3 separate regions of the Homo sapiens genome follow, and regions 2 and 3 are each linked to region 1. Evidence: fine-mapped expression QTL. A gene starts in region 1. Each other region holds a variant in brackets. All regions are shown on one strand. Distances are between the middles of the regions. Region 1 holds the start of LINC00426 (long intergenic non-protein coding RNA 426). Region 2 overlaps LOC124903145 (a long non-coding RNA gene). Region 3 has its middle 23 kb from the start of LINC01058.

Region 1 (4,243 bases):
GTATGACAGTGACAGGCATTTAGCAGAAAGTGCACTTCAGGGCTGGGCGCGGTGGCTCACGCCTGCAATCCCAGCACTTTGGGAGGCCGAGAAGGGTGGATCATGAGGTCAGGAGATTGAGACCATCCTGGCTAACACAGTGAAACCCCGTCTCTACTACAAATACAAAAATTAGCCAGGCATGGTGGCACACGCATGTAGTCCCAGCTACTCAGGAGGCTGAGGCAGGAGAATCGCTTGAACCTGGGAGGTGGAGGTTGCAGTGAGCCAAGATCATGCCACTGCACTCCAGCCTGGGCAACAGAGTGAGACTCCGTCTCAAAAAAAAAAAACAAAAAGTGCACTTCGGATTCTGAAGACTGGCCTTTATCCCACAGGCAAGGGATATGCTGTATGACACTCTCCTGATGCTGGGCATGGCTGTGAGCCAAAGCACCCAGGCAGCCCTGCCATCAGAAGGGTAAACCACGGACACCTGATGCCTTCCTGAAGGAAGAGCACTACGCCTGCCAAACCATCAAGCGTTGATGCTCCAGCGCCTTCTACCCGTGGTTCTCCAGCCTCAGCAGAAGAGAGAGAAATTGATGACCCTGTCGTTGTAGCATCCCCATCACCCAGCAATTAATTTTAGTTCAATGCTTCAAACGCTCTTCAGGCGCAGTGTGCGTTCAGCTGTGTCAGCTAATGGTGAGTACCCGGACAACCATTCTGTTTCACATTCAGTACAGTATTCAATAAATCACATGAGATACTCAACACTGTATTATAACATAGATAGGCCTGTGTTACATTATGTTGCCCACTGTAAGCTAATGTAAGTGTTCTGAGCACGTTTAAGGGAGGCGAGGCTGAGCTCTGATATTCGATAGGTTAGGTGTATTCAAAGCATTTTAGACTTTCAATATTTTCAATTTACAATGGCTTTTATAGGGATGTCACTCCACCGTAGGTCGAGGAGAATATGTAGTCAAGTTGCCTGGTCATGAGCACATTTTAGGTCAAGGTGTGTTTTACGCAGCTTCTAGGGTTTGCTCCTTCCTTTTGAGTTTGAGCCTGGGGGTGTGGGTTGAGGATAAAGAGTAGGTGTGGGCCAGGAGTGGTGGCTCACATCTGTAATCCCAGCACTTTGGGAGGCCGAGGTGGGAGGATCTCCTGAGCCCAGGGGTTCGAGATCAGTCTGGGGAAGGGACGAGACCTTGTCTCTACAAAATTAAAATAAAAATAAATAAATTAGCCAGGCCTGGTGGTGCATGCCTGTAGTCCCAGCTACTCAGGAGACTGAAGCAGGAGGATCACTTGAGCCCAGGACTTTGAGGCTGCAGTGAGCTATGATCACGCCACTGCACTCCAGCATGAGCAATAGAGTGAGACCCTGTCTGTATTGAGAGAGAGAGAGAGAGAGAGAGAGAGAGAGAGAGAGAGAGAGAGAGACACACACAGAGAGACAGACAGAGAGAGAACAAAGAGCAGGTGTGATCGGAGCTCAGGAAATCCTCCCTCTGGTAAGTAGTCTCAGCCTTCTATTGAGGCTGCCACCACAGTGCCATCCACAGCTTTTGCAGACCATGACATACGCAAACTGTTGTAAAATTTTGGCAGTGCTCATAGTCTCAGAGCCAAGCTTTGAAACAGAGAGGCAGCAGGAGACAGTGGGAGGAGGGTGGGATTAGAGACAGAAGGTCTCCGGGTTTGAATCTTTTCTCTCTATTGGCTGGTTGTGTGACTCTTGTCTCAGCTTCTTGGGCTGTACAAAGAGAAAACTAACACCTGCCTTAGAGACTTGTGATGATTTAATGTAGAGTGTGTGACATGTTATTGGATATTAGCAATTGCTGATATTTATAATGAAGAGCACTGGAAGCTGTCACAGTTCTCATAGTTTATTTTGCATTTGCTCCTCAGCATCCTCTGCTCATCTCAGTGTCTGTGTGGTCTTAGTGGGATGCTGACTATATTAATACTTGTAAACTTTACTCATTTTCCATCTCAAATGGGACAAGGGATAAAAATTATTTTTTATATTGTATATTTATTTAGTAAGTGAGCACTTTCCATTTTAGGCACTGGAGACACAGAAATGAAAGAGACAACGTGCCCTCAAGGATCTCACAGTGTGTGGTGAGGTGGACACACACACACATATCTAAGCACATGACAGTGAGAGGCACGTGGTCACGAGGTTGTGACGTGGAGCTGAGAGCTCAGAGGAAGGGCTTTGGATCAAGTGTGGTCAGACCACACTCGGCCATGAAAGTCTTTGAAGGTGGGGAAGGGGTGAAGATGGTGAGGGGATTCCACGGCTGGGAGAGGTACACTCCCTACACGTTCTAACCAACTGGCCGTGGGGAGGAAGCTGGAGGTCAGGACACAGGTAGGGCCTGGGTTTTTGCCTCATGTGACTGGGTGGATGGTCACAATTCGGCCATGCTGTCTTTGAACTCAACACCACCAAAATCATAGGATATTCCTAGTAATGTTGATTTCCACTAGATTACTTTTGTTACCAGAGTTTTAAGGGCAGAAGTCTTTGTCCCTTTTTTTCTCTAACAGGAAGCCATTCTGGGCCATTTATTTGCCGTTAACTTACACAGCCCACTGGAGAGTGGAGGGGTGTGAATGTGGGAGCCTGGGTGAGGGCTGCACCGGACTGTCACCAGGACAGTCCTCAATGCTGCCTGACTTAGCCACATTGCCAAAAACATACACCCATAGGTTATGAAATATTCAATACTGTATTGTATGGGAGAAATACAAAGAGGAGAAAGAACTGGGTTGAAAAGGTGGTCTGGTCAGGTATCTCAACCCACTGGCTTATAGACCAGGAACCACTCTAGACAATGCATGTAAGGAACAGAAATGGGAAACAAAAACATTTAAATTGTATTTTTCTCTGATTGCAATAAACTTGGAGGAAAGCTATTTTCTTACTTTGAGCTTTTCTTCCAATTATGATGAATGCAGAGATTAATTACAAAGGACCCGGATAAACTAAAACTCATCTACAGCATTTTTTTTTTTTTTGAGATGGAATCTCGCTCTGTTGCCCCGGCTGGAGTGCAGTGGCGCGATCTCGGCTCACTGCAAGCTCCGCCTCCCGGGTTCACGCCATTCTCCTGCCTCAGCCTCCTGAGTAGCTGGGACAACAGGCACCTGCCACCACGCCCAGCTAATCTTTTTTGTATTTTTAGTAGAGACGGGGTTTCACCTTGTTAGCCAGGATGGTCTCCATCTCCTGACCTCGTGATCTGCCTGCCTTGACCTCCCAAAGTGCTGGGATTACAGGCGTGAGCCACCGCGCCCGGCCTCTACAGCATATTTTAAAAGGCAAAAAGGTATTTTAAAATTCATGTTGGAAGACGTGGGCTCTAGCTGGGGCTGAGACAGATGATTCAACTATATTTTTTATTTTACTGCGCACTGAGGGTTGAAGCTGAAGAGCATGCATGCTTACCATTGTGTGTGCACATGTGTGTATGTGTGTCTTACACCAAAGACTGAAATCTCAAAAAAGCCCCAGGGAGCAGGTGTAACTATTATGCTACAAATGAACAGGTGTATTGTGGATCGCTGTTATATAGTTCTTTTCTTCAAACATACCTTCCTGATATAACGTTTTCTTCCTGAAAGCAAACAGTTTCTACTATTGGATTCTTGAGTGTATCATTAAGCTTCTCCAAACACAAATAACATCTACTATGCTTTAAAAGTAATGGCCCACACAGCTACTTATTTGTGTGACTGTTTATCTGTTTATACCTTTGCCTGTTTTTATCTTCAAGCAAATGGGGGATCTCAGAAGTCTTAATGAAGTAACTATCCCTGAACACTGGGATCAATACTCAGCATCCAGCTGTCAAATCAACACCAAGGTATGTACCGGGGAAAGGAAGGTTTTAGGTGAACTCCTAGCTGCATGTCTGGTTAACCTGCAACCACACAAAGCAGCTGGGGTAAAGGTGTGTCCCGATGCCTTGTGGTGTACTTGGAACTCCACAGCCAAAAGATTAGACGTTGTTTGCTCACTGTGTTCAAAACAAGAGGTGTAAAGGAAGTTCAGCAACAACCGAAAGATGACTCGTAATTTGTAACTGACTGGCTATGCTTGGCGAGCCTGGTGTATTTATAATCTTTCAAAGTCAAGCGCAAAGGCTCCTGAGCCTCATGCGTCACCCAACTGCAGCATTCCTGTTGATCACGCTGGCTGTCACCATAAAGCCTGAGCAAAAGTAAACTTTTCTGTCCC
Region 2 (4,243 bases), 46 kb after region 1:
TCTTGAAGAGTTTTCTGAATGTCTTATCATTATTGATGCCCCTGGGCCAAAGAAACTTCTTAAACACTGCCGGAGTCTTCTGTATACCGTGGTTTCTGCTTTAATTGTTTCTACCTCAGATTCCTTCTGGCTTAAATATTTCCTCTTTCATGCCTCTGTCCAGGTGACTACCTGCTAGTTATTACCTCTTCTCCACTCCCTGGACTCAGCAATGTTTTCTATCTTCCTACTCCCAACATTTGGTTATTCTGGGTTTCGTGTCATTTGCTCTTGCCTACACGATTTATGAAAGAAGACAAATCCTGACCTTGATCAACTCCACTCCTGAATGCCTTGGCCTCTATCACTGCATAAAGCTGGAAAGAATCTTAAAAGCTGTCTGGTCCAACCTGCTCATTTTACAGATCTGTGGGGCTCTGTGGTCAAATGAACAAAGGAAATACTAAGTTTAAAAAGTTAAACAGGTGCAACCACTTTGGAGAGCTGTTTGGCAGTTTTTATAACATTGAACATATATACCCTATGGTCCAGCAATTTCACTTCTACATGTTTACCCAAGAAAAATGAAAACATATGTCTACAAAAAGACTTACATAAGAATGTTCATACCAGCCTTACTCATTATAGTCAAAACTTGGAAACCACCCAAATATCCATCAACAGGATAATGGATAAACAAATTATGAGATATGTGTGTATATATATATATATATATAATCTCTCTATATATTACAATATAGATGTATATAATCTATCACACTTATTTACATACACAATGCAATACAACTCAACAATGAAAAAAAGAACTACTAATATACACAACAGCATTGACACAACTAAAATATCTTCACACTGAGCAAAAGAAGCAAGCCACACAAAAATACATGTGGCATAGTCCAAGAACAAGCAAAGGCAGATGATGCTGATGAGCGGTAAGACAGTGGTTGTCTCTGAGTGCGGACAGTGGGTTGGCTGGAATCGGGCATGGAGAAACTTTCTGGGGTGATGGAAATATTCTACATCTTGTTTTGGGTAGCAGTAAACTGAGCATTAAACTCTCAAATATTATTGAGTTGAATACAAGACCTGTGCATATGTTCATTCTACCTCAACTATATATTAAAAAATTAAACATTTCTTTACTCTGCGGCTTTCCAGAGGATTTAATAAGCAAATATGTATTGTGCATCTTTAAGAAGGAGACACAGCCTAGAGTGTTTTTTAAACGTGTTTGAGGAGGGGACATTATTTGAAGGAGCATCTCATGGAACAGGAAACACTGTAGAGGAGTGATGTTTTCGTTCGAATATTGACTTTAGAGCATCTCACCAGGACTATGTTTTCTGCTGTGATTTCCTTCCTTCTGCTCAGCCTAGAGATGGACTGCTCGTGCCAATCCATGGGGCAGGGGGGCAGGGGGATGAGGTGCCTGCTGTGGCCCAATTCTCCTGCCTTCCTGTTACCAGACTGGAGCCCTCCATTGGCACCCTGCCCTCTCTAGGCCACTGGATCACCACCACCTTTGCCTGCTGTCAGAGCTAAGAGACCCACTTGGGCATCTGCTGTATTTGCAGAATTGTATCAGTCACACGGTTCATTTATTCAGCCATGGGTGCATGCATTCACTTACTTACAACCTATATCTCTATGAGTGCCTCCACATGTCTATCACTGTGCAGTTCCCTGGAGACACAAAACTGAGTAAGGCATAATGCCTGCCTTAAGGGGGAAAGAGTCACACAAACACAGTTTTGCTTTTTTTTTT[G/TG]AGATGGAGTCTCTCTCTGTTGCCCAGGCTGGAGAGGCGTGATCTCGGCTCACTGCAAGCTCCAGCCTCCCAGGTTCATGCCATTCTCCTGCCTCAGCCTCCTGAGTAGCTGTGACTACAGGTGCCTGCCACCATGCCTGGCTAATTTTTTGTGTATTTTGAGTAAAGATGGGGTTTCATCATGTTAGCCAGGATGGTCTCGATCTCCTGACCTCATGATCCTCCCGCCTTGGCCTCCCAAAGTGCGGGGATTACAGGCATGAGCCACCGCGCCCAGCCACAAACACGGTTTTTAAACAATGCAGAACTGCAGTATTAGAGCAATGCCTAAGGTCTTATTTTTATTTTATCCCTTCTCCTGCAAACATGCGATTCTCTTTTCCTCCTATGGGTCTGCCAAAGGCGAAAATAAGAATACCAACCACCTGATACAAAAGGACAATTATTACTTTGACCAAAAGGATATCTGCTGCAAGAGAAATACTCTAGACATCAGTGGAGTGGTAGGGTAGTGCAGCAGGTAGGGGCTCCAGGGCCTGCTGGGGCTTTGCTGCACATTTTGGGGTGCAGCAGCTAGGAAGGAAACACAGAAGTGGGTGCTCCAATGATGAGGTGACACCTAGATATATAAGTCCTGATCTTCATAAGTTCAATGGTTTTTTTTCTTATCTTGTTTCTCAGGAGGGGCGAAGGGAGGTGAGCTTTATAGATTTTGTAGAAGAGGGCAGTCCCACAAAATGCCTCCTGACTTCTTATTCATTGTTCAGCTCAAACGTGTGATATTTTCTGAGCTTGAACTGGCAGTGGGGCAGGTGGGGAGGGTAAATTCAGCTGTGAGCTGCACACTCAAGGGCAGCAGAAACAACCGGGCATTGGCCTTGTCAATGACCTTCACAAGCAGGTGTCCAAGGAAGGTGGTGAAGTATTATTCAGTATTATTTAGACTAGAAGGTTCTTAGAGAGGAACATCTCTTGTTTATTGGCCTAAAAAAAATTAACATGCAGCAAGATTGACCTTGGGTGTGTGTAGAATTCTACGCCTTTTAATGAGTGTAGAGAATCAGGTTGCAGAACAGCTTCATCACACCAAAATGTCTTCATGCTGTCCCATTTTAATCACACCCTCATCCCACCCCGAACCCTAGCAACCACTGATCTATTCTCTGTTGCCAAATTTTTATTTTTGAAATTGCTATATAAATGAAATCATTACAGTACATAACCTTTTGAGTCTAGTTTCTTTCACACGAGGTAACTGTCTGTAGATCTTTCTTTAGTAATTCTTCTACAGCACGACTGCTGCCAAAAATTCTCTTATTTTTCATGTATCTGATAATGTTCTTATTCCACCTTCATTCCTGAAGGATATTTTCTTAGAATATAGAATTCTAGGGTGACAATTTTTTTTCTTTCAGCATTTTATCATCTTGCCTCCAATTGTTTTAGATGAGAATTCCACAGTCATTTAATTGTTCCTCTATAAATAGTGTGTTGGTTTTCTCTGACTGTTTTAATATTTTCGGGGCTGGTTTTAGTTCTTAGCAGTTTCATTAGAATGTTTGGGCATAGGTTCCTCTGGGTTTGTCCTGTTTGGAGTTCACTGAATTTCTATAGGTTTGTGCTTTTTGCCAAATTTGGGAAGTTTCCAGTCTTTATTTTTTGAGTATTTTTCTGTACCACACTTTTTCCTGTCCTTTTGGAGCTCTGATGACACAAATATTAGGCTTTTGGGGAATTGTTTCACAGGACCCTGAAGTTCTGGGTGGTTTTTAATTTTTTTTTTAATTTTTACTTTTCTCAATCTTTATTCTCTTTGCTAAAGCTTTCTAGAGTGTTGGTTCTTACTTCTTAGAGCACTTTTATAAAAGTCGCTTTAATTTCTTGTCAAATAACTATCACATTTGTGTTTTCTTCATATTGACATCCATTGATTGTCTTTTCTCTCATGAGTTGAGATTTTCCTGGTTCACATGGCGACTAGTTTTGAAGCATATCATGAGCATTTTGAATATTATATTATGAGACACTAGGTCTTGTTTCAATCTGTACAGGTTTGTTCATTTACTTATGTTTTTTTAGCAGGCAATTGACACAATTGGTTTAGACTGCAAGTTCTGATCAGCTTTCTGTGGTTGTGGTTGCAATGTCAGTTCTATTTTCAAAGTCACTGTGGTCCTGTTCACGTTTCTCCTGGGTGCCTATTATTTCATGGTCAGGATGGGACCTAGATAGCGATGTAGCTGTTAATTCAGTTCTCAAAGTCTCTGTTATGATGTTTGTGATCAAATCCAAGAATGCACAGCTCAAGGGTGTGCCCACAAGCCAGCAAATAACTGTCTGGGTTCGTTTTCCCAAGCTCCTTTCTCTCTACCATCTCCCTGGCACTTTCCAGTTTCCCAGGATTCACCTTTTTGGCTATCCATCCAGAAAACTGGAGCCTTATCACCCTGCTCTTCTGTGCACTCACTGTGACTCTGC
Region 3 (4,243 bases), 25 kb before region 1:
TGCAGGAATTAATCCCTCAGGCCATCACATTCCCAGTGCATTTTCTTTTTATACTTCTGTGTGTCACTTGGGGCTGTCTGCCTTGAATTAGAGTTATTTGTGTACCTGTGCCTGGTAGCCTCCCCACGACTTGACGATTTGAGCGTCTGAGTGACAGGGCCATCTTTTTCATTTTTCTATTCCTCGGAGCACCCTGCTCAATATTTTACATTTAGGTACTCAATGTGTGGTTTGAATTGAATTGAATGCAACAACTGGGATTTAGATTTGCTGGATGAACCACTACCCTGTGTACCCTCAAAAATACACGAACTTGGGTAAGTTTCACAACTAGGCTGGAGTGGTTGTCAACAGTGAGCCCATGAAAAGGGCTACACACAGCCTGAAATTTTCTAGATAGTCTTGGATCAAAGTAGCCTATCTTGTTCTCTGAGTATATGTACACTTTTTTTTTTTTTGAGACCGAGTCTCGCTCTGTGGCACGATCTTGGCTCACTGCAACCTCCGCCTCCTGGATTCAAGTGATTCTCCTGCCTCAGCCTCCTGAGTAGCTAGGACTACAGGCGCCCGCCACCATGCCTGGCTAATGTTTGTATTTTTAGTAGAGACAGGGTTTCACCATGTTAACCAGGATGGTCTCCATCTCTTGACCTTGTGATCCACCCACCTCAGCCTCCCAAAGTGTTGGGATTACAGGCATGAGCCACTGCACCCAACAAATTTTACACCAGAGGTTTCTAATTTGGGACTTGGAAAGTTAATGGCTATATCTGTGGCACATCAGTATAACAATAATGACAATAATAATGGTAGCCAATAAACATTTGTCAAGTGCCAAGCGCAGAGTTAAGTAAGCGCTCTTTCCTGTAGCCTGACAATTACATGAGGCACTAGGTAGAGAAGTTAGGTGGTATCTTTATTTGTGGCTTTACCATTCATATGTTTTTCCTAATGACTTTTTGGACTCTGACCTGAGGCTCTTCATTGCAGGCTCAGCCCAGGTCTGACTTGGTTGAAGCAGGAGACAAGTTTGCTGGAAAGCTGAAGGAGAACTCTCCCACATCTGATCTGCTTTTGGGTTTATGGGTTGATCAGAGTTTTACTCACAGCAACTGTCAGCTGTTAATAAAGACAACAATTTGATCCCATCCTAACCACCAGCTTAACTTCTTCCAAGGAGGCCTGTGGTTTTTCCAAATGAGGGTTTTCTTTCTTTTCTAGCAACTCAAAATACCCTGTTTATTTATTTTGTTTTATTTATTTGTATTTTATTTTTACCTTGCATTCAAGCTAACAAGTTATGGATCCTATTTACTTAGAGTTATTTAGTACATGCTTTATATAAGTGTGAAATATTCTTGACCGGGCGTGGTGGCTCACGCCTGTAATCCCAGCACTTTGGGAGGCTGAGGTGGGCAGATCACCTGAGATCAGGAGTTTGAGACCAGCCTGGTCAACATGGTGACACCCCATCTCTACTAAAAATACAAAAAAATTAGCTGGGCGTAGTGGTGTGCACCTGTCATCCCAGCTACTCAGGAGGCTGAGGCAGGAGAATCACTTGAACTCTGGAGGCGGAGGTTGCAGTGAGCCAAGATCACACCACTGTAAGCCACCCTGGGCAACAAGAGTGAAAACTCCGTCTCAAAAGAAAAAAAACGTTTGGAATATTCTTTATGGTTTCTTGTAACATGCCCTATTCTATTGTATGTTGTCATAAAATCAAGGCAGAGAACATCTGAAACTTGCTGTCTCATTTTCTCCTATCATGCTTCCTGGGACCTTTTTCCTTCATATCCCATCAAGCCCAGCTCCTGTGCTAATACTCCATCTAGAATTTCCC[A/G]TAACCTACTGCAAAATCTGTTTCTTAATAGGTGAGGCCAGGCGTGGTGGCTCATGCCTGTAATCCCAACACTTTGGGAGACCAATGTGGGAGGATCACTTGAGCCCAGGAGTTCAAGACCAGCCTGGGCAACATAGAGAGAATCTGTCTCTTTTCCATCGAGGCCATCAGTTACTGTCTTCTAAAGAGAAGGCAAGCCCATTCTCCAGCCCAGGACAGAAAATTGCAGTGATGGATTCACTCATTCCACAAATATTGATTGAATGTTTTCTCTGCAGGGCACGATTGCAGGTGTCAGGGATGCAAGAGTGATTAAGAGAGAGGGGGCCCTGCCCTCATGGAGCCTCACTCCAGAGGGGTAAGTCACCTCCAAGAGGCCAAGCCCTGGGGCCTGATGGGGCTGGGAGAGTGGGGGTAGTAGGGTATTACTCTGATGGGGCTGGGAGAGTGGGGACAGTGGGGCATTACCCGCATGGCTACAATGACCAAGGGCCCTTCTCTCCTGGCCACTAAGGACTAATTAATTTAGCAGCACATGCTTCAGAAACAAGAGTTGAACCTTTGTTGGGAGATACGGGTGGGATCTTGTTTCTTAGGGACCTTGTAAGTCGGCACCGAGGAGTTCTCCCCCTCCAGCCCTGTTTCTGATCCTGCACCAAGAGAAGGCTTTGTGTAGAGGCCACTTCGCTGCTGTCAGCATGACTAAAAACACAGCACAGCTACTCTGGAGTGATCACTCTGTGAACTTTGATCAAAACATTGCACTATTCCAGCATGAGCGCCAGCACCTTCCCCTTCCCTGTTTCCCCATAGCCAGTCTCAGAGGACACTCCGGAGACTCTGGCAGGTAATGCCCAAAAGGCCAGCCTGTCCAAAGTGCCAGAGGGCCGAGGGACAGTTGTGGGGAACCTTCCAAAGAACAGCATGCCAATACTGCTTATGTGCCTCATGAGAGAGGTGTAGGGCCTCTCCTGCTTTGACAGGGCCTAACGTGGGTCTGTGACTGAACAGAGAGCAAAAGCGTGCCCTGAAATTGGCAGAGCCTCTGCTATCCTGAGTCAGCGCTGGCCAGGAGGTCAGGAAGGGGGAGACTGAGAGAAAGGATACAGCTAGCATATTCTTAGTGAAATCTTGGCTGGATTTTGACAGACATTCAATGGCTTCTCTTCCCTCTAGACGTGTAGCCCACACCAAAGGAAAAGGAAGATGGTGAGCTGAAACAGAAGTCAGAAATGCAGGCAAGATATGTCTGCTGGCTAAGGATGGTATTTTATAAAAGCAGCATTGTCTCAGAGAAGGTCCTTGACATACATGTCTGGTGAGCAATGCAGATATCAGAACTTAGGCCCCCAAAAGTGGCCCTATGGCCATCCCTAACCTTGACCTATGCATTGGAAAGAGGGGCACAGTTCATGATGGAGGAAGGGACAGCACAGTCTCTGACCCCAAAACTTAGGATGAGGGTATACTGTATTTTTTTTTTTTTTTGAGACGGAGTCTCACTTTGTCACCCAGGCTGGAGTGCAGTGGTGCAATCTCAGCTCACTGCAACCTCCGCCTCCCGGGTTCAAGTGATTCTCCTGCCTCAGCCTCCCAAGTAGCTGGGACTACGGTGTGCACCACCACACCCGGCTATTTTTTTTTTTATTTTTTTATTTTTAGTAGAGATGGTGTTTCACTATGTTGGCCAGGCTGGTCTCGAACTCCTGACCTCAGGTGATCAGTCTGCCTCGGCTTCCCAAAGTGCTGGGATTATAGGCGTGAGCCACCACGCCCGGCCATATACCATATTTTGAACTAAATTTCTCCCAGCCTATCTCAACAACACTTGCCATAGTTCCTTGTTTTCCTGAGAGAGATAGTAACGGCCATCTTCCCTCTGTAGAAGGAGAGCCTAAGGCAGAAACAAGGTACCATGTCCAGCATTAGTGAGTCTTTAGAAAATCAAAGAATAAAATTTATGTCTTTTTCAAGCTCACCTCTTACAAAGACCTGAACCACCAACAGGGTCAGAATGGCACAGCCTCAGCCAGACGTGGTGGCTCATGCCTATAATCCCAGCACTTTGGGAGTCTCAGGTGGGATTGCTTGAGCCCAGGAGTTTCAGACCAGCCTAGGCAAGATGGTGAGATCCATCTCTACAAATTATTTTTTATTTTTTTGCCAAGTATGATGGCATACACCTGTAGCCCCAGCTACTCGGGGAGAGGCTGAGGTGGGTGGATTCCTTGAGCCCAGGAGTTCGAGGTGACAGTGAGCTTTGATTTCACCGCTGCACTCCAGCCTGAGCTACAAAGGGAGACCCATCTCTAGAAAAAACAAATGGCACAGCCTCTATGGAAAGCGGTACGGTGGGTCCTCGAAAAAATTAAACAGAATTACCATATATCCACCAATCCT

Evidence for each region. PIP is the estimated chance that this variant, and not a neighbour inherited with it, causes the effect. A credible set is the group of variants that fine-mapping cannot tell apart.
Region 2: its variant is the best candidate, but not a certain one, in a credible set for the expression of LINC00426 in lymphoblastoid cells (TwinsUK, PIP 0.51).
Region 3: its variant is the best candidate, but not a certain one, in a credible set for the expression of LINC00426 in whole blood (TOPMed, PIP 0.70).

The regions. Positions count from the first base shown.
Region 1 is chr13:30,371,911-30,376,153 of GRCh38, reverse strand. It overlaps LINC00426 (long intergenic non-protein coding RNA 426), which reads left to right and starts at 2,240. Exons shown (of 5, transcript NR_024464.2): 1 at 2,240-2,371; 2 at 3,780-3,869.
Region 2 is chr13:30,325,536-30,329,778 of GRCh38, reverse strand. All of the region lies in intron 1 of LOC124903145 (a long non-coding RNA gene), which reads right to left. Among named protein-coding and RNA genes, the nearest start is that of LINC00427, 7.8 kb to the right of the region's middle. The variant G/TG (reference allele first, on the strand shown) is at 1,766.
Region 3 is chr13:30,397,306-30,401,548 of GRCh38, reverse strand. No RefSeq gene overlaps it. Among named protein-coding and RNA genes, the nearest start is that of LINC01058, 23 kb to the left of the region's middle. The variant A/G (reference allele first, on the strand shown) is at 1,844.